3 separate regions of the Homo sapiens genome follow, and all the other regions are linked to region 2. The links come from fine-mapping of genetic effects on plasma protein levels. A gene starts in region 2. Each other region holds a variant in brackets. All regions are shown on one strand. Distances are between the middles of the regions. Region 1 overlaps SIRPB1 (signal regulatory protein beta 1). Region 2 holds the start of SIRPB1 (signal regulatory protein beta 1). Region 3 holds the start of SIRPD (signal regulatory protein delta).

Region 1 (8,182 bases), 43 kb before region 2:
CAAGGGCCAAAAGTAGATAGAAACCCCACCCTGGGAAGATGAGTGAGGGTAAGTGCAAGGGCATAGCCTGGCATGTAGTAGGTGCTTAATAAATAACCCCTGTGACTGTAATCATGAGGTTTGGTCATTACTGCTTCTGGAGCTGCATAGCTATTCTTTAGGCAACAGAACAAAGAGGCACACAAACACCAAGGAAAGGCTCAAACCCTACTCACCGCAGCTGCCAGAAAAAACCCAAATGATAAAAGGAGCAGCAACCACCATGTTTGGCGAACTGGCTTTCAAGTAAGATCACAGGGGAAGCTGGAAGCATTTTGGAAGAAGGAGGGAAAAGATACCTCAGTGACATCTGGGAGTGCTGAGGGAGGGAGGCTTCTGGGGCTGAGGAGTGAGGATTTGCTGGGACTCCAGCACGTGTTTAGATACAAATGTTTTCAAGACAGAAGGTTCCCCAGCCCTGAGGCTGCATCTGAGCCAGGCTTTGTCCCAGTCTCCTATCTTGGGCCCTGAGGCCAGTAGCATGGGAGGGGTCCTGTTCAGGCTTCTGGGGCCTCCCAGAATGTTTCCAGAATGGCTGTTTTGAAGCACCCATGACCCAAAAAGCTGTTCTCAAAGCCCCAAAACCTGGGGCACCGCTTTTGCTAGGGGGCTGTGTATGAGAATCTTCTGGAGCCATTAAGAACTTTAGATATCCAGGCCCAAATTAGATGCAATTAAATTGGCATTTTAGGGGGGTTCCTGGGTCCAGCTTTGCAAACTTTTTTTTTGATAGTTTTCCCAATGATTCTAATGAGCAGCCAAGGTTGAAAGCCACTGGACTCCAACCCAAACCCCATTTATACTTGGGGCCTAGAGATGCCCTGACCTGTCTGAGGTCACACAGCTTCACCCTAACACAACTCACCTTTATTGAGCATTTACTGTGTGCTTGTTGATGCCCTAAGCATTTTACACAATATCACTCCTTCAGACTCGGCCCAGTCTGTGAGGTCAGTGTTACCATCAAAGGGTGAGGACATCGAGGCCTATGGTGGTGAAGCACCTTGTCCCAGGTCACAGAGCCAGGAAGTGGCAGAGCCGGGAAGAGGCCCAGGCAGCTGGGATACTGCCTGTGTTCTCCTAACGACAGTTCTGCAGAAGCTCAGTAATAACCTGAATGACACCACCATTAGGGGCTCTGTGCACATCCTCTCCAATCCTCACAGAACCCAGAATAGGCCATGATAATCAGCATCTCACCGATGGGGAAACCGAGGACTCAAGGGAAGGCAAGACTGGCCCAAGATCACACGATCTTGAAATAACACCTCACTTTGGGGGTGCCTACAGTGTGCTAGGTGATTTACAGAGAGAACCTTACGCTTACGACTTTCCTAAAGGAGTCCATGATTGTCTCTATTCTACAGATGAAGATGCCGTGGCTGAACAAAATGAAGGCACTGTCTCCCGATTCTCCATGTGTCCCAGTGGGCATTTCCTGTGTCCCACCAAGCACTTATGTCCATTAACAGAGCAAGTGTTCTAACTTCTTGAGCTCCAACACTGACTGCCACCTCAATTGTCCCTTTGAGATTCTAGACTTCATGCAATGTTAGGGAGAAGCCTCCCTCCTGGGTGCCCAGGCCTGGTTACCCTGCAGCCATAAGCAAAAGACAGTGGGCTCCTGACAGCCGGAGGGGAGAATCTCAACTCTTGCTCACATGGGCCCCAAACACTCTCTAGGAAATGCCTCATCTCCTCATCCTTAGTCCTCAGCACCATGAACGGGCAGATACGTGCTCTGCTGGGCTGCAGGAGGCTCGACTCTGCTCATTGGACGCTGCTGAGTGAAGAGGAAACAACACAACATGGGGGAAGAGTCCTAAATGCCTCATGTGTGTTGAGACCTGTCCTTTAGGAACCGGCTTGGCATATCATGAGACATGCGCAGGGCCTTTCTGATGGGAGTGTGAAGACAGGCCCTCCTACCCCTACAGGGTTCTTGTTTTGTTTTTAATGCTTTTTGCTGTAGAACTGAACAATGCAAGAGTTTAGAAAGAGAAGGTTGGAGCATTTCTCCACTCTTGAAAAACCACAGTTGAGTGTCACAAAGACAAAGGCTGTGAGTCAGGCTGCGGGGTTCCAGCCTTGGCTCCCTGACCTGCTCCCAAGTCAGGTCTCCTCTCTGAGCTTCAGTGTCCTCATCTTTAAAGGAGGTAGCAAATGGCTTCTCCCTCATAGCACTGGTTATAAGGAGACTCTGGCACAGTTGCTGCTCTCTGGCCCCCTTCCCCACCTCCCTCCTTTCTCATGTAGCTCATCATTTAGGCCGAGAGCATGGCAAAGAGGAGTGAGTACTTCACTAGGAGTGAGCAGATCTGAGTCACACCTGAGCCACCACTGGCTGTGGCTGCCTGGGCTGGGGAGGCACCACCTGGGCATTTCAGTGTCTTTGCCAATATTATCTGCACAATCAGGATAAAGCCACCTTCCTTGTCTAAGTTCAAGGGTTGTGGGGAGCTGATTTCAGTCATTACTGAGCAATGTACATTTTCATGTACATACATGTACATGAAAGCATCATGTTTTAGGCTTTACATATACACATTTTTTTAAAAAGCTGTTAGTAAAGCTATGTGTCTTCTGGAGGTTCTGTTTTTTTGCCTTTCCAAATTCCAGAGGCTGCCCACATTCCTTTCTCACAGTTACATCTTCCCATCACTCTAACCTCTTGCTTATATCCTCACAAGTCCTTCTCTGAGAATTAATCTCCTTCCTCTGTCTTGTAAGGACCTTTCTTATGTATTGTGTCCACCCTGATGCTAGAGCCAGATGTTAAAACCACTGTCTTAAAAATGTTTGAAGTGGGGCCAGGCATGGTGGCTCACGCCTGTAATCCCAGCAGTTTGGGAGGCTGAGGCGGGTGGATCACCTGAGTTTGGGAGTTCGAGACCAGCCTGAACAACATGGAGAAACCCTGTCTCTACAAAATACAAAATTAGCCAGGCATGGTAGCTCAAGTCTGTAATCTCTGATTGCTACATCATCTAGAAGGGAAATTAGGCAATATTCTCAAATATGAAAACACACTATCCTCTGACCTAGAAACACCACTTCCAGTGGGAATCTCCCACCTGAGTAGGGTGACACATGTACAAGGTCATCCACTGCATGATTGTTGTAGTAGCTCAATGTTGGGAATAACTTACATATCCATCAACAGAAGACTGTAAAATAAATTTTGGTATTTCCATAAATTGGAGTATTTTTCAGCTGTAAAAAAACTGGAGCAGTTCTCTATGTCCTGATGTGGAATCTCGATATGAAATGACAGGGCTTACATTTGGGAGAAGTTTTCTAGTCACCAATGAGCTTTAGTATCTGAATGTGAGGTGCATTCTTAACATTTGGGAAACTGATGAAAAGAGAAATGCTGGCTCTCTGACACCTGGCTCTGTTTGGGGAACTTTTATCTAGCACCTATGATGCACCAGGCTCTTCTATGGAGACAGCGTCTAATGCTGGGGAAGGAAGGAGACTGCCACGATTCAGATATGGACTCTGGCTCCAATTCTGTCACTAACTGGCCCTGTGACCATGGACAAGGCCCCTGTCATGTCTTGGCTTCAGTCTCCCATCTGTAAAGGGGGTTGGGCTGGATGGTCTGAAGGTCCTTCCTGTGCTGACATGCCAGAATTCAGCAGTTAAGACGAGGCTTTTGGGGCTCTGGCAGGAAACCCCACATAAGCATTGTTGCTACCTTATATGGGGAACCCCTAAGTCACCCACTTGTGGGACCTCTTTCCTGAGGTGAGGGACATTCTGAGATGATGCAGCTCTGCTCGGAGCCCATGGTAACTCTGTGACTCAGTCCCCAAATCACAGAAGGGTTTCCCAAATAGACCCACAGCAAATGCCAAACATATTGGCATCTCCTCCCACCAAGCCATCAGATTCAACCGTGAATGTGCCTCCGAGAAATCTTCCCCGTGGGGTGTTTCTGAAGATTAAATTAAAAAAAAAAACAACCACGATTTACCCTCTCCATGCCCTGGACGGATTTCTCCTCATTAGAAGGGAAGAGAATGTAAGCTTGGTGGGGGAGCGCTTTAGGCTGTTTCATTCACTGCTGTTTGCGCAGCATCCAGGGCAGAGCCTGGCACACAGTGGGGTCTCAGTGACTGCCTGTTGCATAAAGAAGGGACTTGGCCACCCTGAGGGGGAAGCATTCTCTGGAGGCAGAAGGCAAGGTCCAGCCCTGTGCCTGGACAAGTCACTCAAATTGTGAGTTCCCTCATCTGTGGAACCAAAGGGCTGGGTCAGCTTTGGAAACACAAGAGCTGTAGAGCCGCAGACTGGGGATGCCTTCTGTCCCATCATTTACAAGCCGTGGAGCCTCGAGCGACTGCCATGACATCTCCAAGCCTCAACTCATGTGATCTGGAGAAAGGGTGACATCAGTTCATGAAAGGGTGGCTGCTCAGCCACCACCACACCTGGCTGTTGCTCCAAGAATGGATAATGTAATTATTGAGTTATTGTCACACACCAGGGGACAAAGGAGGCCCACGCTGTACTCACCGCGCACAGACAGCTCAGTGCCTGCTCCAGACTTAAACTCCACGTCGTCAGGGCTCCCTTTCCGGAACTTCACACAGTAGTAGGTGCCGGCGTCTGCTGGGGTGATGTTACTGATGCTGATGGAAAAGTCCAGGTTGTTTCTCTTTGTGAGTTCTGAAACAGTTGTTACCCGTGGGAAGTGGCCTTCTTTCTGATTGTAGATTAATTCCCGGCCTGCTCCAGCTCCTCTAAACCACATGATGGGCCCCACAGGGATCAGGGACGTCATAGCACAG[C/T]GCAGAGTGGCCGACTCTCCAGCTGCAACTGATACGGACTTTTCAGGCTGAATCACCTGTAGCTCGTCCTCACCTGCCACTCCTGGAAAGGAGCACAAAGCAGTCATTTCTTCATCCTTACCTGATTCTCTGTGTTTCCTCAAGTGTTTATCAATGGCTTTCATTGACTGGGTGCACACCAGGAAAAGGCCTTGAGCTCAGCCCACTACATGTATTATCTCATTTAACCCTCACAACTGGCCTGTGACGTAAGACTGTAATACAAGCGAGAACACTGAGGCACAGAGAGGTTCAATTTCCTTTTCCTTACTTTCTTCTGTTCTTTCTGTTTGCTTTCTTTTCTTTTCTTTTTTGAGACGGGGTCTTGCTCTGTCTGCTGCCCAGGCTGGAGTGCAGTGGTGCAATCACAGCTCACTGTAGCCTCAATCTTCCAGGCTCAAGAGATCCTTTCTCCTTGGCCTGCCAAGTAGCTGGGACCACAGGTGCATTCCACCATACCTGGCCAATTTTTGTATTTTTTCTAGAGACACAGTTTCACCATGTTGCCCACAGTGGTCTCTAACTCTTGGGCTCAAGCAAACCATCTGCCTTGGCCTTTCAAATTGCTGGGATTATAGGTGTCAGCCACCGCGCCTGGCCAAGAGGTTCAATTTCAATGTAGAGCTTTGGGTTGAGGACCTGAGTAGAACTATTGAGCCCTCCTCGGAAGTGCCATGTTTTGCCAATTATGGCCTCCACTCTGTGGTACATGGAGTGTGGCACTTTTTGTATCACTGGATTGGGTGGGGCCCTGTGACTTCTTTAGACCCTTGAGTTATGAGCAGAATGATGGGTATAATTTGTGGGCTGTGCATTTAACTGCAAGAGCCTCTGTGGATCAATTTCTCCCTTCCGGAGACCACGAGGCTCTGATAGGGCCTGCTCCATCGCCTGGATGCGTGAATGACCGTTGCATGCAGAACTGCCAATCCACACTGAATATGTAGCTTCCAGTAGAAATATAACCTTGTTTTAAGCCCCTGGTAATTTTTCACCCATAGCATAATCACATTACCTAAGTTTCCTAATGCTGATGTGACAAATTACCAAAACTTAGTGTGTTAAAAGAAATGTAACATTTTATAGTTCTGGAGGTTAGAAGTCCAAAATAGTGTTACTGGGGTACAATGAAGAAGAAATGATGAACGTCAAATACACAAAGATAGAGAATAAAACAGTGGTGACTAGGGGTGAACTTGGGGGAGTTGATGGGGAGGTCAAAAGACACAAAATTGTGATAAGTCTGAGGAAGAAGTCCAGAGAATGAATGTGCAATCTGAGGATTTTAGTTAATAATGTTGTATTGAATTCAGTATTTTTGCTTAAGAAGCACATTTTAGGTGCTGTTGACATACAACACATGCAGCATAACTATGGGAGATGATGGATGTGTCCATTTGCTTAACTTTAATAACCATTTCACTACGTATATGTACATGTATACATATATGAAAGCACCATGTTTTACACCTTCCATGTCTACATTTTTTAAGGCGCTTTCAGCAGAGCTGTGTGTCTTCTGGAGGCTCTGTTTTTTGCCTTTCCAAATTCTAGAGGTTTCTCCCATCCCTTTCTCACAGTTACATCTTCCCACCACTCTAACCTCTTGCATCTTCACCTGCAAACATCCTGGAATACAAGGATGTTTCAATGTCCTTCTCCAAGAATTAATCTTCCTCCTTCTTATAAGCACCCTTGTGATGTATTAGCTCCACCCTGATACTAGACCCAGATATTAAAATCACTGCCTTAAAAATGCTGAGAGGTAAAGGAAATAACGGACCAAGAACTAAAGGAATATAAATGTCTTAACAAAATGAGAATGTAAAGAAAGAGAAATTATAGGAAGAAATCAAACAGAAACTTAGGAATTGAAAGTACAATAACTAAAAGTTCACTAGAGGGGTCCCCCCAATGGGTATAAGCCGGTGGAAGAATAATCAGAAAACTGGAAGATGGAATAATTGAAATTATTGAGACTGAGGTGTGGGTGGAAAATAGAATAAAGTATAGAGCACAGAATCTAAGGGAATTGTGAGACATTATCAAATGTATCAACATACACCTTACTAGAGTTCCAGGGGGAAAAAAGAGAAAGAGAGAAAGGAATAGAAGATTATATGAAAACAGAGTGGACAAAAATCTTCACAAACTTGTTAAAATACAGGAATCTACAAATTGAAGACACAGAAGAAACGCAAGTTGAACCCACAAATAAACTCAGAGACCCACACTAAGACACATTATAATCCAAATGTTGACACCTAAAGTCCAGGTGAGACTCCTTAAAGCAGCAAGACAGAAGCGATTTCTTCCATACAAGAGACCCTCAATAAGATTTTCAGCTCAGCTCTTATGCAATGCACCGAAGGCCAGAAGATAGGGGGATGGTAAGTTCAAAATGTTGAAAGAGGAAAAACATGTCAATCATGAATTCTATACCTGGCAAAGTGTCCTTCAAATACAAGGGAGAAATTATGATATTCTCAGATAAACAAAAGCTAACAGAGTTCATGACCATTAAACCTTGCCTACAAGAAATGCTAAAGGGAGTGCTTCAGGTGGAAATGAAAGGATGCTATATGGCAACTCAAAGTTGTATGAAGAAATAAAGATATCCAGTTATGTGTACATTTTTTAAAAATCATGCTTCAATATCCCACAAACAAGCTGTGAGCACCCTGCCCAGGTGACCAGGTAACCAGTATTTTAAAGCTGGTCCCTGCCACAATTCCTCTTCTTGTCTTCCCCTACTGTGACCTAGTGACATTGAAACACTCTAGTAAAAGTGTTTTTGCTTGTGTCCTCCACCTTGACTCCCAGTAAAGGCACTTGCCCAGGGATCCCATCTCTCTTGCCTACCCATCTGCTTGATTGAGCCTGCTCCTTGGGAGCTCCTTCCACATGGCTTCCTGCATGGCCTGCCCTACTTCTGTCTCTAGGAACTGTGAGTATGCCTCTTCATATGAACTTTTCATGGCCATGTTAGAGTGATCCTCTAAGATTCAACCAGCAGGAGTCACTCTAACATTTTCTATAGTAATGGCAATGAGGATGGGATCATTCTAAACTCAGGTGGAAAGTTCCTAGGGAATGCCTTTGACTCATGACTTACTGATTTGCTACTCTGATTGGCTCCACAATTTGAGAAGGCTTTTTACCCTGATGACTTTCTTGTGCTATGCTATGTACAGCTTTGTGTTGCCTTTTGGAGTGCTGCCATGGCTCTCCATCCTGAAGCGAGGATCCTGTTCCAATATCAATAATGACATCCACCTTTCTCCAAGAGCACAAGATGATATAACATT
Region 2 (8,182 bases):
GGCATTGGGAAACCTGGATATCCATCTGTAGAGGAATAAAATTAGACCTTCCTCTCACATGACACACAAAAATCAATTCAAAATGTATTAAAGACTTAAGTGTAGGATCTAAAAGTGTAAAAGTACTGGAAGAAAAGTGCCATGACATTGGTGTGGGCAATGAATTTTCAGATATGAGTCCCAAAGCACAGGCAACAAAAGAAAAATAGACAAACGGCATTACAACAAACTAAAAAGCTTCTACACAGCCAAGGAAACAATCAACAGAGTGAAAAGACAACCAGCAGAATGGAAGAAGATATTTGCTAGCCATGCATCTAATGAAAAGTCAATATACAAAATATATAAGGAAGTGAAACAACTCAATATTAAGAAAACAACCCAACTAAAATATGGGCCAAAGATCTTAAAACCCATTTCTCAAAAGAAGACATTAAAATGGCCATCAGACCTATAAAAATACTCAGCCTTACTATTCATCTGGTAAATGCAAATTAAAACCACAGTGAGCTATCATCTCACACTTGTTAGAATGGCTACTATAAAAAAGATGATAACTAGTTTTGGAGAGGATGTGGAGAAAAGGGAATTCTTGCACATAGTTAGTGGGAATGTAAATTAGTAGAGCCATTAGCAAAAACAGTATGGAGGCTCCTCAAAAAATTAAAAATAGAACTATCATATGATCTGGCAATCTCACTATTGGGCATACATCCAAAGGAAATGACATAAGCATGTCACAGAGATATCTGTGCTCCCATGTCCATTGCAGCATTATTTACAATAGCCAGGATATTAAATTAACCTAGATGTCCATCAGCAGATAAATGGAGAAAGGAAATTGGTATACACAATGGAATTCTAATCAGCCTGACCAAAGAAGGAAATCCTATCATTTCCAACAATATAAATGATCCTGGAAGATATTATGCTAAGTAAAATAAGCCAGGCACAGAAAGACAATACTGCATAATGTCTCTCATATGTGGAATTTTAAAAAGTTGAACTCATAGAAGTAGATAGTAGAATATTGGTTACCAGGCACTAGGCAGGGGGTGCATTTGGAGAGATATTGGTCAAAGGATACAAAATTTCAGTTTAGTTAGGAGAAATTAGTTCCACAAATCTATTGTACAATATGGGGTCTAGAGTTCATAACACAATTCGTAACCTCAAAAATTGTTGAAAGCAGATTTTGAGAGATCTCACCACAGAAATGATACATATACAAGGTAGGTCATATGTTAATTAGCTCAAATTAGGCATTCTGCAATGTACACATATTTCATTAATATGGTATACATGATAAGTATATACAGTTCTGTCAAATAAAAATAAAATATTTTGTTAAAAGTTTCATTGAAATTAGAAACTTGGAGAAACAATGATAAAAAATGAAATCTCCTGTGTGTGCATGTACACTTACTTATATGCATACATGCATATACATATGTATACACACATATGTATACACACATTTGCAAATATATATACACACACATATATGTATATATACACACACACACATATATATGTATATATAGACACACACATATACATTCACAAATATATATCAAAGTGTGACCTATTGTGATAGTATATAAGTTTGTTTTGTGTATTAAATAAAATTACAACACACGTTAAAATCTCATTAAAATATCTGGCCCATAGAAAGTAAAATATGTGGCCCATAGAAAGCATCCAACACATTAATAACAAATTTAGAAGTACATACATCACAGTTGTAACTCTGGTTGTTGCTAACAAGTGTGGTAGGCAATAATTAATTCTATGTTTACTTCCCTGCATTTTCTAATATTTCTGCTAGTAGCATAACACGACTAAAAGAATGAACTTTGGAGCCGGTCGACCTGGACTTGAATCTCAGCTGCTCCACTGACTGAGGTAGGGGACAATGAATGGACAAGTTCCTCCCTCTGCCTGAGTCTTTGTTTGGAAATAGGGGATAATAGTTGCAGCTTTCACACAGGGATGTTGTGAGGATTAGTGGAGCTAAAACAGGCAAAATGCTAATAACTGTGTCTACATGGTAGGAAGAGCTCAATTGTTAAACTCTTACTGCTGTCATTTGGGTACAGTGTATGTGTGAGAAAAATAATTTGAAAAGTGAGACCCCTGCCCTCTAGGGCCTGTGAGGTGACATCACAGCAGGGCCCAGTGGGGAATTGAGAGGCTGCTGTGCCCAGCCCTGTGGTTCTGGGGTCAGCTCCATGGCCTGAGAAGGGATCAGGACAGGTAACTTGTCTGGGAGCTGTGAGCAGGGTTCTCCCAGGCTGCACCAGGAAAGGCCCTCCAATCCTGCCTGTCTTGGGAAGGGGAAAGAAATTATCCATGGGAAATTTAAGAGAACCAAAGGAGGTTGTAGTACCTGTTATGGGCTGAATGTGTCCCACAAAATGCATGTGTTGAAGCTCTAATCCCCAGCACCTCTGAACGTTACAGTTTGGGAGACAGGGTCTTTAAGAAGTAATTTAGTTAAATGAGGTCATTGGGGTGGGCCTTAATACAACAAGACTGATATTCTCATAAGAAGAGGAGATGAGGACACAGACACACACAGAGGAAGATCATGTGTTTAAGACACAGAGAGAAAATGGCCCTGTATAAGCCAAGGAGAGAGACTTCAGTAGAAACTAACCCTGCTGACACCTTGATCTTGGACTTCAGCCTCCTTAACTGCAAGGAAGTAAATATCTGTAGTTTCAGCCACCCAGCCTGCAGTTCTTTGTTATGGAAGCCCTAGGAAAGGAATATAGGACCCAGTAAGCAGCAAATGTGGAACTTCTTAAAGAGGAAGAGGCCACAGAGAAATGGGTGGTAAGAATCAGGTCACAGGGGAGGGAGGAGCATGGGGGAACAGAGGACAAAGTGAGGAGCACCCTTAGGGAGGATGGTGGCTGAACACTCCCAGGATACACCACACCACTGCCCTACTCAAGTGAGCACTATTACAGACTTCACATCCTCAGTTTGGTGAAGAGAGAGGGCTGGGCCTAGAGCCACATAACCCTGTTAGGGTGTCTCTGAGCTTACTCTGTGGACTTGGGCATGTCACTTGGCCCTAGGGCCTCAGGACTGGTGAGGATTTAGATAATGATTCTTCTCTGCTTTTTCAATTGAAATATTATCAAAATGTAAGTAATTGTTGTTGTGGTGGTTGAATCGTCCTGTGGTTCAATGCCTCTGGTAGCCAGCTGCAGATCCACAGAGAAAGTGCTCAGCTCCCTGATTTTCTGCTCTCAGTCAAAGCCTAATCCTTGGCCTTTCTTGGCAGCACTTGTCATTGTCCGGAATCCCTGAAAGTCCAGGGACAGGCCATGGCTCAGTGGGCAGGAAAAAAGATTTTAACCGAAGGCAGTGCTCACCTGTGAGTCTCCCCAGCAGTAGCGTCATCAGCAGGAAAGGACTAGGAAGGTGGGGCCAGGAGGCTGGCACGGGCATTCTGGAGACCTTAGGAGCCTGCTCTGTCCAAACGTCTGTGCTGGGAAGATCGCAGACTCTGCTCTGAGGAGAGAAGACAAGCCCTGCCTCCCTTAGTTCAAGAGGAAGTGGCTGCGATGGAGTGAAGCAGTAACCTGCTTCTGGATTGTGAAACAGAAATCAGGAACAGCAAGCAGCTACAATGCAAGCAGTTATGCATGCCCCATTTCAGGAGAATCAGACAGGCTTAGCAGAAATAATGCTTCCTTCCCACCTGAGGTCTTAACTCCTTCCATGACTCCTAACCCCATCTTTATGTCTTCTTGGTGATTTGCCATTTGGTGCTCTTAAGCCAGGAAGGACCTGTGGTTATGAAATGTTTCCTAAACTTTCCATCTCAAGACCTCAGGATGTGGTTGGCTTGTGGTCTCATTCTACAACAGCCTCAACCAAGTGCTACTCAGTTGGGGCAGGATGAGGGATCACTGGACCTGCTCAGTGTTGGAGAGGAACAGGTCTGCTCTTGAAATGGTTCCCTATTCCGAACTTTTATAAATATAAATGGCAAAACTTAGCCCAAATTCAGTCTCATGTGGCCGTTAGCACTTTCATATGCCTGCACCCAGCAGAAGGAATTATTTCCTGACTTCTTCCAGGAGAGGAAGTGGGCTTAGGGTAATAAGGATCTGCTTTGTGAGGTGAGGTGGGGATTATGGGTTATGGAAAGGGGATATGTTTATTATGGGGGAGAATATGGAGGGCAGATTCCTGGAGCAGTCACATCGATTTCAATACTCTTTGCTCTGCACATAGAACACCTATTCCATTCATCACTGTCTTCAGATGGGAACTGAGGAGGGAGGGAGAATAAATACCCTAAGAAGATGTGCTAAGGAGTTGGGGAAGTTACTGGGCCTGCCTAGGTTCAGTTTTGCCTTCTAACCTTGGGATAATAAGTCTCACTGCCATGTTTTAGTGAACATCAAAAGAGATAATGACTATACATCCCTGAGATTCAGTAGGTTATTATTGATACTCATGGTGCCAGGTGAAGAGAGGGAACTCAAATATTGCTTTTAAATGGATTTCTACTGCATGCTGAGTTTCCCACCAGTGGCCTTCTCCCATGTTCCCCGGACTTCTGGAACCCAGCTTTTATGGTGTACTTGGTCTACCTCTGACACTCTGAGATCAATTTCTCCCTCTGGATCCTCTTCACCCTGCTTTTTGTCAATCTGTAGATGAATTCCTTTTCTTACAATCTCCAGCTGTGTGACTTTCAACAAGACACTTGACTTCTCTAAGCCTTAACTTAATTACATGTAAATGGAAGTTATAACATGCACCTTGTAGTGATATGGTAAGAGTAATATAAGCCATACAGAAGGTTTGATTCATATTTAATTATAACCAAAAAATTGTGGCTATAATTACATTTGTGTACAGGGTGAGTTCACTGCTTCCCTGACATACTTGTGCTTTAGAAAAATTTCCTTGGTAGGAGAAATGGTTTCTCCTCCATCATCTGTGACTAAGAAAGACCTGTCTGGAAACCTCTCTTTCCCATGCTGGGCTTGCAATCCTTCACCTATCATGAGTAATTGTCAAATGAAATTGTAAAAGTCATCACATTTCCATGCAAATTTCTTTTTCAATGTGGCAGATGCACAGAGGGTGAAATCATCACCTCCTGCTCCACACTCACAGAAATGAATATAAAAATGATAAAATCATGTTAATCGATGCCAAATTACACTTTAAAACAAGAAACTAGTCTCTATATGACATGAAGGGTAGTAGCTGCTGTGTTTACTGCAGATGTCCTGTGCTCCAGGTACTGTGCCAAGCATTTTGTCAGTTACCTCATTAATTCATCACTCTGGTCCCATGAAATTAGCACTACCATTAACCTTTTTTTATAGGTGAGGAAACTTGAGGCACGCAGGCAATAATACATTTGTTCAACATCACCCAGCTTTTAGAACTAGAACACAGGTTGTCACACTCCATGGCCTTCACTATGACACCTCTCATAAGAAGGGAGAGATATCTCTCAGGAAGGAAGCAGAGAAGAAGCCATAACGTCAATTAGGCGCAGCCTCCACAGCAAGGTTGGGATAGGTGCCATGTTCCATAAAGTGCTGACAGCCCATGATCACTCAGGGCATTATTCCTGTAAAGATTACAGTGAAAGCAGTAATCACTAAAGATTTGGGGAAAAGCGACATCATAATAAATTCAAAAACAATAACTAAAAAACAAAAACAGCAATGAAAATAACATCTTAGAAAATAATACCTCAGAAAATAAAAATATAAAATGTGAAAATATTTTTAACATTAACATATTTAGTAACCTTATAGAGATAATGAAAAGAAAGTAAATCCATAAAACAAAGTCACGTGTGAAACAAGAATAGGTAGGTGTGCAGTAACAACAGGTATCTGAGAAAAGTAATAAAAAGAAGAATTTTGAAAAAATATAATTAGTGCTAAATTGTTTAAAAAACAAATAGGTGGATGTATTAATCTGTTCTTTCTATAATTGTTATAATGAAATACCTGAGACTGAGACTGGGTAATTGATAAAGAGAAGAGGTTTAATTGGCTGATGGTTTCAGAGGCTTTACAGGAAGCATAATGCTGGTATCAGCTTCTGGGAGGTCACAGGAAACTTACAAAAATGGCAAAAGGTGAAGGGGAAGTGAGCATATTTACACGACCAGAGCAGGAGGGAGAGAGAGAGTAGGGAGGTGCCACACATTTTAAAACCACCAGATCTCATGAGAACTCACTCATCATCATGAGAACAGCACCAAGAGGGAAATCTGACCCAAAGACCCAGCCAACTTCCACCAGGTCCTACCTCCAACACTGGGGGTTACAATTCAACATGAGATTTTGGTGGTGGCACAGATCTAAACCTTATCATTTTCTCCTGCCCACTTTCAAATATTATGTCCTTATCACATTGCAAATACAATCATACCTTCCCAGAAGTCCCCCAAAGTCTTAACTCATTTCAGTATTAAGTCAAAAGTCCAAAGTCTTATCTGAGACAAGGCAAGTGCCTTCCACCTATAAGCCTGTAAAATTAAAAATAAGTCAGTTACTTCCAAGATACAATGGGGTATAGGCATTGGCTTTAGCCATCTGAATGGGAATACTCCCATTTCAAAAGAGATACATTGCCCAAAAGAAAGGGAATACAGGCCTATGCAATGCAATCTGAAACCCAGCAGGGCAGCCATTAAAGCTCCAAAATTATCTCCTTTGACTCCATGTCTCACATCCAGGGCACACTGGTGGAAGGGGTGCACTCCCAAAACCTGAGCAGCTCCACCTCTGTGCCTTTGCAAAATTCAAATTCCACGGTTCTTCTCATACTTGGTGTTGAATGCCTGCAGCTTTTCCCCGCACATGGTGCAAGCTGCTAGTGGATCTATCAATCTTTGGTCTGGAGGAAGGTGGCCCTCTTCTCACAGCTCCACTAGGCAATGCCCCAGTGGGAATTGTGTGGGGGCTCCAACCCCACATTTCCCTTCTGCACTGCCCTAGTAGAGGTTCTTCATGAGGGCTCCGGCTTCTGCCTGGACATCTAGACTTTTCCATATATCCTCTGACATCTAGGCAGAGGCTCCCAATCCTCAGCTCTTGTACTCTGCATACCTGCAGAATTCACACCACATGGAGCCACCAGGGCTTATGGCTGGCACCCTCTGAAGCAGCAGCCGAGATATACTCGAGCCCCTTCGAGCCAAGACCGGAGCTGGAGTGAATGCGGTGCAGTGGGCCGTGTCCGAAGGCCGCACACGGCAGCAGGCCCTGGTTCTGGCTCTCAAAACCATTCTTCCCTCTTAGACCTCTGTGCCTGTAAAGAGATGGTCTCTGAAATGCCTTTGAAGGCTTTTCCCAGTGTTTTCAATATTAGCATTTGGCTTCTTTTTACTCATGCAAAGTTCACAGCCTGCTTGAATTCGTTGCCTGAAAATGGGCCTTTCTTTTCTACCACATGTCCAGGCTGCAAATTTTCCAAGCTTTTATGCTCTGCTTCCCTTTTAAATATAAGTTCCAGTTTCAAGTCATCTCTGTGCTTACGCATATGAATTAGGCTGTTAGAAGCAGCGAGGTAACTGCTTCTTCTTTTTTGTGTGTGATATAAAGTCTTACTCTGTCACCCAGGCTGGAGTGCAGTGGTGCAATCTTGGCTTACTGCAACCTCCATCTCCCGGGTTCAAGTGAGTCTCCTGCCTCAGCCTGCTAAATAGCTGGGACTACAGGTGTGTGCCATGCACCACCACACCTGGCTAATTTTTTTTTTTTTTTTGTATTTTTAGTAGTGATGGGGTTTCACCATATTGGCCAGACTGGTCTCAAACTCCTAACCTCGTGATCTGCCCGCCTCGGCCTCCCAAAGTGCTGGGATTACAGACGTGAGCCACTGTGCCCCGCCTCAGGAAATTTCTTGAATGCTTTGCTGCTTAGAAATTTCTTCCAGCAGATACTCTAAATTGTCACTCCCAAGTTCAATGTTTCACAGAACCCCAGGGCAGGGGCACAGTGCCTCCAAGCTCTTTGCCAAGACTTAACAAAACCGATCTTTGCTCCAGTTGCCAGGAAGTTCATCATTTCCATCTGAGACCTCCTCAGCCTGGACTTCATGGTCCATATTACTCTCAGCATTTTGGTCACAATTCAAGAAATCTCTGGGAAATTCCCAGCTTTCGCTCATCTTCCTGTCT
Region 3 (8,157 bases), 59 kb before region 2:
ATGGGAACAGGTGAGGGAGAGTTCACTAAACAGGCAGAGGGGAGAACCCACCACACACATACACTGAGGCCCCACTCACCTGCCAGTTCAAGCAGCAGATACAGCAGTAAGGAAGGCAGAGGTGGGTGGAGTGGGGAGGCAGGGATGGGCATTGTGGTGAAACCTGGAGCTTGCTCTGCCTGAATGCCTGTCCTGGAGATGCCCTCGACTCAGTGCTCCGAGCAGAGAAGACAGTTCTTGCCTCTGTGATGTCAGAGGAAGGGGATTGTGATGAGAGGAAAGGCCAGGGGACTGGGACACTTTTTCCTTTGTGATTATAAAATTGAACAGACAAGGTTGCTTCAAGCTAGGAAGTTGCTGCTGGAAGTATTTAGCTTTGCTGGGGCTGGGGGGCTTGACACCCACAGCCTTATACTCCTTCCTGAGTTTCATCCCATCTCACAGGTTCTCCCCAACTTCATGGCCTTTGCCTATCTAGGAGCCTCAGACACATAGGCTAGACAAAGGCCTCATCCACATGATGCGCAGGTATGGGTCTAGCTCCTGCATGAGCTCAACATCTGGGCCTGTCTGAGCTGCACAGCTGAAGAAAGAGACAAGATGTCTATAGCCTCACCCACTTGGTAAGAGTTGGACTTTACAATGGATGCCCTTTCTTGCACTCCAGAGTAGTTAGAGGTAAAAAACAAGCAATATCTGCTGTGGGCTCTTGGCTTTTCTGTGGGTCCCTCCATACACTACCAGGAACTGCTTCCTTTTTCCTTCCTGCAGAGGAATCAGGCATGGCTGAGAAAGACATTCGAGTTGTGCAGGTGGTGATGATTTGTGCTTTAGAGGATGGAGGAGGCCTGCAGGGAAGGCGGAGCTGCGGGGAACACTCTCTAGGAGGGAGAGTAACATGCCTACAAACACCTGGGAAGGTGAGGGCTGCCTCTCCTGCTTGGGCTGGACCTGGGACCAGCTCTCAGAGATGGGATTGGAGGGGCAGAAGAAATGCCCCCAGAAAGAGGGAGGAAG[C/T]AGCATGTTGGCATCCTTCTCTCTCAGCTCTGGAATGGGTTCTTCCTAAGCACAAATGTTGTGTTCAGGGACACTCAGCCCACACTCAGCTGGTGACCCTTTAATGTCCAAGCATCCACAGGCAGGCACTGGCTGCCATGGCTGTTTCCCCATTGCCTCCTCATGACTTCTGCCTCCTCCTCAGGAACCAGCTAGATGTCAGGGCCGGGAGAGGTGTTAGACCCTCTAGGAAAAGAAAGCAGAGCCAGGCTGGCACGTTCTCTCTGAGACGACAAGAGTCCCCATCCCCTTGTGATGTCATCATCCTATCCCGTTGTTCTGAAATGATGAATTCCACAAAGGAATTCCTATCCATGGCCCCTGCTTGGAACTAGACAGGAACATTCCTCCAGCCTCCATCATCCTCCCCTTCCCCTACTCTGAGGAATCTTCTCACCTTTCATTAGACTCTAAGTTCCTTGGAGAGTCAGTACTCACGGGTCAGTATCCAAGAGTGCCAGCTTTGGAATCAGATATAATCTAGGCTAGAATCCTGAACGCACCTCCTAAGAGCTGAGTAATCTTGGGCCCATGATACAGACCTGTATATTCTGCAACCTTCTTGACATCTTCATTTGTATATATATATATATATGTATTTTTTTTTTCGAGACAGAGTTTCGCTCTTGTTGCCCAGGCTGGAGTGCAATGGTATGACCTCGGCTCACTGCAACCTCTGCCTCCCGAGTTCAAGTGATTCTCCTGCCTCAGCCTCCCGAGTAGCTGAGACTACAGGCGCCCACCACCACGCCTGGCTAATTTTTGTATTTTTAATAGAGACAGGGTTTCACCATATTGGTTAGGCTGGTCTCGAACTTCTGACCTCAGATGATCCACCTGCCTCAGCCTCCCAAAGTGCTGGGATTTCAGGTGTGAGCCACTGAGCCTGGCCTCTTTGTATACCTTAAATATTCAAGTTTGAGTTTCAGATCTGCACTCACAAACCTTATCTTCTCCCACACCATGCCTGTTTTGTATATGGTACCATCATCTAAGCAGTTTGTCAAACCAGGAAGGGACTCATGTTCTATACCCTCACTTATCCACTTGTTACCAAGTGAAAGGGGGTTGCTGCCTGATGTGCTAGAAGCCAATACTGTGACACCAGGCTTTTGAGAAAAGAAAAGCTTTTTATTGCAAGTTGACTAACAGGAAGACAGAAGTCTACCTCAAATCTAGCTCCATGTGCTGGCTTCAAGGCAGTAGTTTTATTAGCAAAAGTTTAGGGGTTGGATTCTGGGATTAGTATGTGATTTGTGAAAGGAAAGGGGAGGTCTGGAAAGTCCTTGGGCATGTACAGTTATCTCTCTATGCCTCTTCACGGCTCCCATGTGCAAAACCCTGGGGCGTCATCATGAAATACGTGGTAGAAACTCAGGCTGTGACATCAGCAAGCTCATTCTGAGCAAACTCCAGTTGGCCATATTGGTTCCAACAGATTTTAGTCAGTTTTGTTATCCTACAAGTGGAGGAAGTTTCGGCAGTTTAGCAATTTTTTTTTTTTCTTATCTGCTATCCTGTAAACTCAAGAATTTCTTAGTGACTGGTTTCTTTAACTCTTTGGGGGCATAGTTTCACACTCCTATCTTGCCCCTACCAGGCCCTATTGGATTTACCTCCTAAATCCCTTCTGAATTAATCTCTTTCTCCATCTCTATCATCATCTCTTGCCTGAATAAGAACAATTGCCTTCTCACTAGGGTACCCCCATTTTTATTTGCCCCCTATAATCTCTTTCTCCTTCTTCAGCCAGACTGGTCTTTTTACAACATAGATTTAATTATGTCCCTCTCTTGAATAAACATTTTTGTGGATTCTCATTAATCTGGAGGTACTATAAACAAGGCTTTCTTCTGTGACTGACTTGCTCCCTTAGAGATGAAGGGATCCCCACCTTTCTGATACGTAGCATAGCTTCACTGTCCCAGGTTGGGTTCCCTGGGAGACAGACTCTGGGGTGAAGATGAACAAGCAGGTTATCTTTCAGGGAGTACTTTTAGGATCAACACTTGTGGACGGGAGAAGATGGAAGCAGGACTGGGTAGAAGAAGAAGCTGGGCTGCAATGAAGTCCCATTGAAGACCTCAGCTGACCTTGCATGGAGCCTGGTACTAGGATATTCCTCCAGAGTTGCTCTGAGTTAGGATAAGAGAGCTGGGCCTTTATACGACTAGGTTGATGAGTCCAATGAGATGTGGTTTGTTACCAGATACGACCTAAGCAAGGGCACTCCCTTCAGCTGAGACAATCGCAAATAGAGCTGATGCTGAGGACCATCTCCACAGCCAGGTGCCTCTCAGCATCCATTACACAATTCATGGGAACAACTTGTTCCTGTGAAGACTTGGGCTCAGGACATTATTCACTCACTCATAGTCAGGTCCTCAAAGCTATCCCAGCTCACCCACATAACCCAAAGTTTTCTGATCCCACTTGGTCTGACCTGGATTTTACTAATGGGAAAAGTTTAGGGTGAGCATCACGGGGGATTGAGAAGCCACTTCCTCTGGGATCTGAGTGCCTAGATCTGGGGTGAGCTCTGGTAGTGGACAGAGGAAGGACGAGAGGAAAGGAAACCTCAGGCTTTTGAAGTGAGATAAAACTTTGGAATATCAACAAAGTCTCCCTACCGCACATTTCCTTGCATTGTTCCCCACGGGGTACAAGAGGCAAATAAAACCTAGCTGAGGACAAGACGTTAATTTTTTCTAATAGACTTAATTTTTTAAGGACAGCTTTAGATTTACAGAAAAATTGAGCCCTATCATTAGCATCTTACATTGATATGATACATTATTATAATCAATGAACCAATATTGATACATTATGATTAATCAAAGTTCATAGTTTATTTAGATCTTTTCTTTTTACCTAATGTCGTTTTTCTCTTCCAGCATCCCATCCAGGATACCTGTTACATTTACTTGTCATATCTCCTCAAGCTTCTCTTGGCTATGACAGTTTTTTAGACTTTCCTTGATTTTGATGACCTTGACAGTTTTGAGGAGTTCTGGGCCCGATGTTGCAGAATGCCTCCTTATTGAAATTTGTCTGATGTTTTCCTCATGATTAGATTGGGGTTGTGAGTTTTGGGGGGAAGGTAATAGAGGAAAAGTGTCATCTTCATCACATCATATTAAAGGTACATATTAGTGACATGATTTATGATTCTTGATGTTGATTTATAACTGTTGATGAACTCTTGATCACCTGGCTGAAGCTGTATTTGTCAGATTTTTCCACTGTAAAGTTATTTTTTCTCCTTTTTTCCATGCTGTACTCTTTGCAAAGAAGTCGCAGTGCACAGCCCACACTTCAGGAGTGGAAGTTATGTTCCACCTCCTTTAGAGTGGAGTGTATAAATAAATTATCTGGGACTCTTCTGCACTGGAGATTCTTCTCTTCTTTCCCATTAATTTATTCAATCATTTATTTATATCAGTATGGACTCAGATATTTATTTTATACTTTGGACTATAACTCATTACTACTTTACTTATTTTTTTGCTGAAAGTGTTCCAGCTTTGGCCTTTGGGAGCTCTTTCAGTTGGTTCCTGCGCCTCTTTGATGTACTCCAGTCACTGTGGGTTTTGGTTTTGGGGTTGACTTTTTTTTCTTGTTAGCACTTTCTTACTTTCTAGAGGATGTTGAATTTTTGATGGAATGTTTTAAACAGAAAGAAGAGAGAGTAGTCTTTAAAGAAAGAGCTTGAGAATACAGCACACAAGCCAAGTGATCAAATGAAGAGAAGTTTTCTTTTGAAATCCAACACCTAGTAGAAACCAATGACCTCAATGATGTATTCACTCATTTAAAAAAATTGACAGCCTATTATATGGCAGACACAGTTCTGGCAACTGAGGATACAGATAATCCTCCCCCACCCCCAACCCCCCACGATATAACTGACATTCCATTTGCGTAACATAGATAAATACAGGCAGTTCTCACTTTGGTGATGACATGCATGCATTTCTCTTACCATAGTTTAGTTAAGTAACATCAGTCCCACAACACAAGTCTCAAAATTTAGGTGCCATAGTAAATTTAATGTAATTTGCATAGAGTACAAACTTCTGGGCTAGCTCTTCAGTCCACAAATCACCATGGTAATAAAAGCTCGTCATGATCAGTAACCAGTCATGTTGTGTCTTTCAAAGTCTGTTGGTGATTGGTCCCTATGGCTCTCCTACTCAAACAGCAAATCCTATAGTTGGGTTGCCTCCTTGCCTCCCAGTGATGAGCCCATATGACATTTTACAGAAATGAATAATTGAAAGAGGAATTTTGCAACCAAGATGAAAGTGCAGTGAAGAAATGAGAAGTGAAAATGCTGCAAGTGAGGTTCAAATTGAATGTGAGTGGAATTCTAGAAGTACAAATAGTTGACTGTGGCAATGTAGACCCTGATGCAGGAACTTCAGATAGGCAGCCAGAGGGAGGTAGTAAACGCAAACTGCCACAAATGGGAGAGGAGTGGTAATAAAAGGGCTGAAGATGTCCCAAAGGTTGAAATGCCAGCAAAAAACTTCACATGAAAGGATCTTCTGGAGTGATTCCACAATATTGAAAATTCAAGGGATAAGATGTTGGAAGCTAGTCCAAACTTAGAAAGATGGCAAAACACCAAGGTATAATAGAAATGATGCTTGCTGGCTAGGCATGGTGGCTCATGCCTGTAATCCCAGCACTTTGGGAGGCCAAGACAGGTGGATCACCTGAGGTCGGGAGTTCAAGACTAGTCTGATCAACATGGAGAAACCCCATCTCTACTAAAAATACAAAATTAGCTGGGTGTGGTGGTACATGCCTGTAATCCCAGCTACTCAGGAGGCTGAGGCAGGAGAATCACTTGAACCCTGGAGGCGGGGGTTGCAGTGAGCCAAGATCACGACATTGCACTCCAGCCTGGGCAATAAGGGTGAAACTCCATCTCAAAAAAATAAAAATAAAATAAACAAATGAAAAGAAACAATGCTTGCTCCGTGTATTAGCCCATTCTCACACTGCTATAAAGAACTACCAGAAACTGGATATTTTATGAATAAAAGAGGTTTAATTGGACTCACAGTTCCACAGGCTTAACAGGAAGCATGACTGGGAGGCCTCAGGAAACTTACAACCATGGTGGAAGGAGAAAAGGAAGCAGGCACCTTCTTCACATGGTGGCAGGAGGGAGAGAGAGAGAGAGAGCGAAGGGGGACTTGCCACACACTTTCAAAAAACCAGATCTCATGAGAACTCACTGAGATCTTATGAGAACTCACTATCACAAGAACAGCAAGGGGGAAGTCCGCCCCCATGATTCAGTCACCTCCTACCAGGCCCATCCCACAACACATGCAGATTACAATTTAAGATGAGATTTGGATGGAGACACAGAGCCAAACTATATCACTCCATATTAGAAATATACAAAAAAAGGCAAGCACTCTTCCAACTACTCTGGATACATTTTTACAAAGAAACAGCACTTGAACTCTCAATGTTTCTAATGCTTTGAATTGTAGTGCACAAATAAATATTTATTTCATTATATTTTCATTGTCCTCTACATTTGTAACTGAGAGTGTGAGAGTTTCTAATATTTTGACAAAAAATGGTAAAGGTCACAGAATGATCATTGTTTTTCTGATTGACTATGGAGACTGCTTTCCTGGGTTTCAGGTTGCACAGTCATTTTTGCAATCTTGCACTGCCATGAAAAGTGAGGGCTGCCTGTATTCGGCATAATACTCATCAAAATAAGGGCTAAAGAAAAATTAATTAGGATAAGAGAAATTAGAATGCCGGGATAGAGAAAATAAATAATATTTTATACAAGGTAGTTTATAGAAGGTGCCTTTAATGAAGTGACATTGAGCAGAGACTTGAAGGAGGGAGAGCGGGAGCCATGCAGCTGTGTTGGGGAAGAAGCAGAGAAGTGATATGATTTGACTTTTCCAAAGAATCACTGTGGCTGAAAAATGAAAGCCAGAGGAGTGGTCCCCAAAGAGATGATGCTGGCTGGGACAGGGAGGGGTGGTGGAGGTGAGAGGTGTGGAGAATAGGGATTTAACTCTGAGGTTTCCAGCAGCAGGCTTGGACTGGGCCCTGAAAACCAATTGTTAAATTTCAGGAATCTTGCAATCTGGTTGTTTAACTGTTGGCAGTGTGAAATTGGTCAGGTTGGGAGTTATTACACTAGAGAAATTGGCAAGCACTGCAAAACAGCTTTTGGTTTTTCCCTTTCAGAAAGTCCATTGTTAAACATTTACCATCTCATGTAAGTGGACACATGCATTTTGGAGGCAGAACTGAATATGAGTTGTAAAGGGCAGTCATCGAGGGCTCCTCAATGTTGGGCTGTGGCAGCATTTCTACCACAAGCAGCAGGACTGGGAAGGCTGCAGGATACTAGAAGAAATACTGTCTCCATCACAGAGAGAGAAGGGAGAGCTTCTTTCTTTTTGGGTTTGAGGGATAGGATGCTTGGACAAAGAGGAAAGAGAATCATTTTTTTCTTAAAATTGGTATAGGGGTTCATGTGTATTCAGGAGGCAGTAGAGAACCTCAACAAGGCTGGGGGAGTTGGGGTAGGCAGGAATCCAGAAGACAGGATAACTCTTGAGAGCCTGGAGAGAGTCTGTGGTTTATGGCCAGTCCCAAGGCGACGGATGGGAGAAGTCCTGGTGTGTTTAGATTTGGAGTGTTTCTCACCTTCTAGGGAGGTGCCATGAGTCAGTGCCCAGAGCCCAATCCCATGGCCCCTGCTCAGGACCGTGAATAGAGACACTGCTTTGGGGCATCATGGTCTTGTGAAGGTGGAACAGGAGCGTGTGGGCAGGCAGATGACCTGGGAGAGGAGGCGTTTGGAGCTGAGTGTGGGGAAGGTTCTCGCCAGCTCCTTCTCTCAGGCTGAGCTTCTCAAGAAAGGAGGAGGCAGCAGAGACTGAGGGTCCTACATGGCAGGGAAGGAAGGAAGGAGCTGTTGGAAAACACATCCACATTCATTCATCTGCTCATCATTTAAGAAATGTTTCCTGAGAGCCTGATATGTCCCTAGTGCTGGTCTCCTCTTGGGATGCCTGTTATGGGTGGACAGGCAGACCTGAGATAGGA

What was found. PIP is the posterior inclusion probability: the model's chance that the variant is causal. Sun 2018 read protein levels with aptamers (SomaScan).
Region 1: its variant is fine-mapped to the plasma level of the SIRPB1 protein (Sun 2018, PIP 0.95). The variant lies in the coding sequence of SIRPB1. If it changes the protein, the assay may bind it differently, which can mimic a change of level.
Region 3: its variant is fine-mapped to the plasma level of the SIRPB1 protein (Sun 2018, PIP 0.95).

Annotation. Positions count from the first base shown.
Region 1 is chr20:1,573,778-1,581,959 of GRCh38, forward strand. It overlaps SIRPB1 (signal regulatory protein beta 1), which reads right to left. Exons shown (of 6, transcript NM_006065.5): 2 at 4,561-4,917. Among named protein-coding and RNA genes, the nearest start is that of SIRPD, 20 kb to the left of the region's middle. The variant C/T (reference allele first, on the strand shown) is at 4,836.
Region 2 is chr20:1,616,483-1,624,664 of GRCh38, forward strand. SIRPB1 (signal regulatory protein beta 1) reads right to left here and starts at 3,527. Exons shown (of 6, transcript NM_006065.5): 1 at 3,387-3,527. The coding sequence starts at 3,462.
Region 3 is chr20:1,557,502-1,565,658 of GRCh38, forward strand. It overlaps SIRPD (signal regulatory protein delta), which reads right to left and starts at 204. Exons shown (of 4, transcript NM_178460.3): 1 at 80-204. The coding sequence starts at 152. SIRPB1 (signal regulatory protein beta 1) reads right to left here. Exons shown (of 6, transcript NM_006065.5): 6 at 3,884-7,996. LOC107985409 (a long non-coding RNA gene) reads left to right here and starts at 506. Exons shown (of 3, transcript XR_007067493.1): 1 at 506-623; 2 at 3,044-3,164; 3 at 3,951-4,036. The variant C/T (reference allele first, on the strand shown) is at 1,018.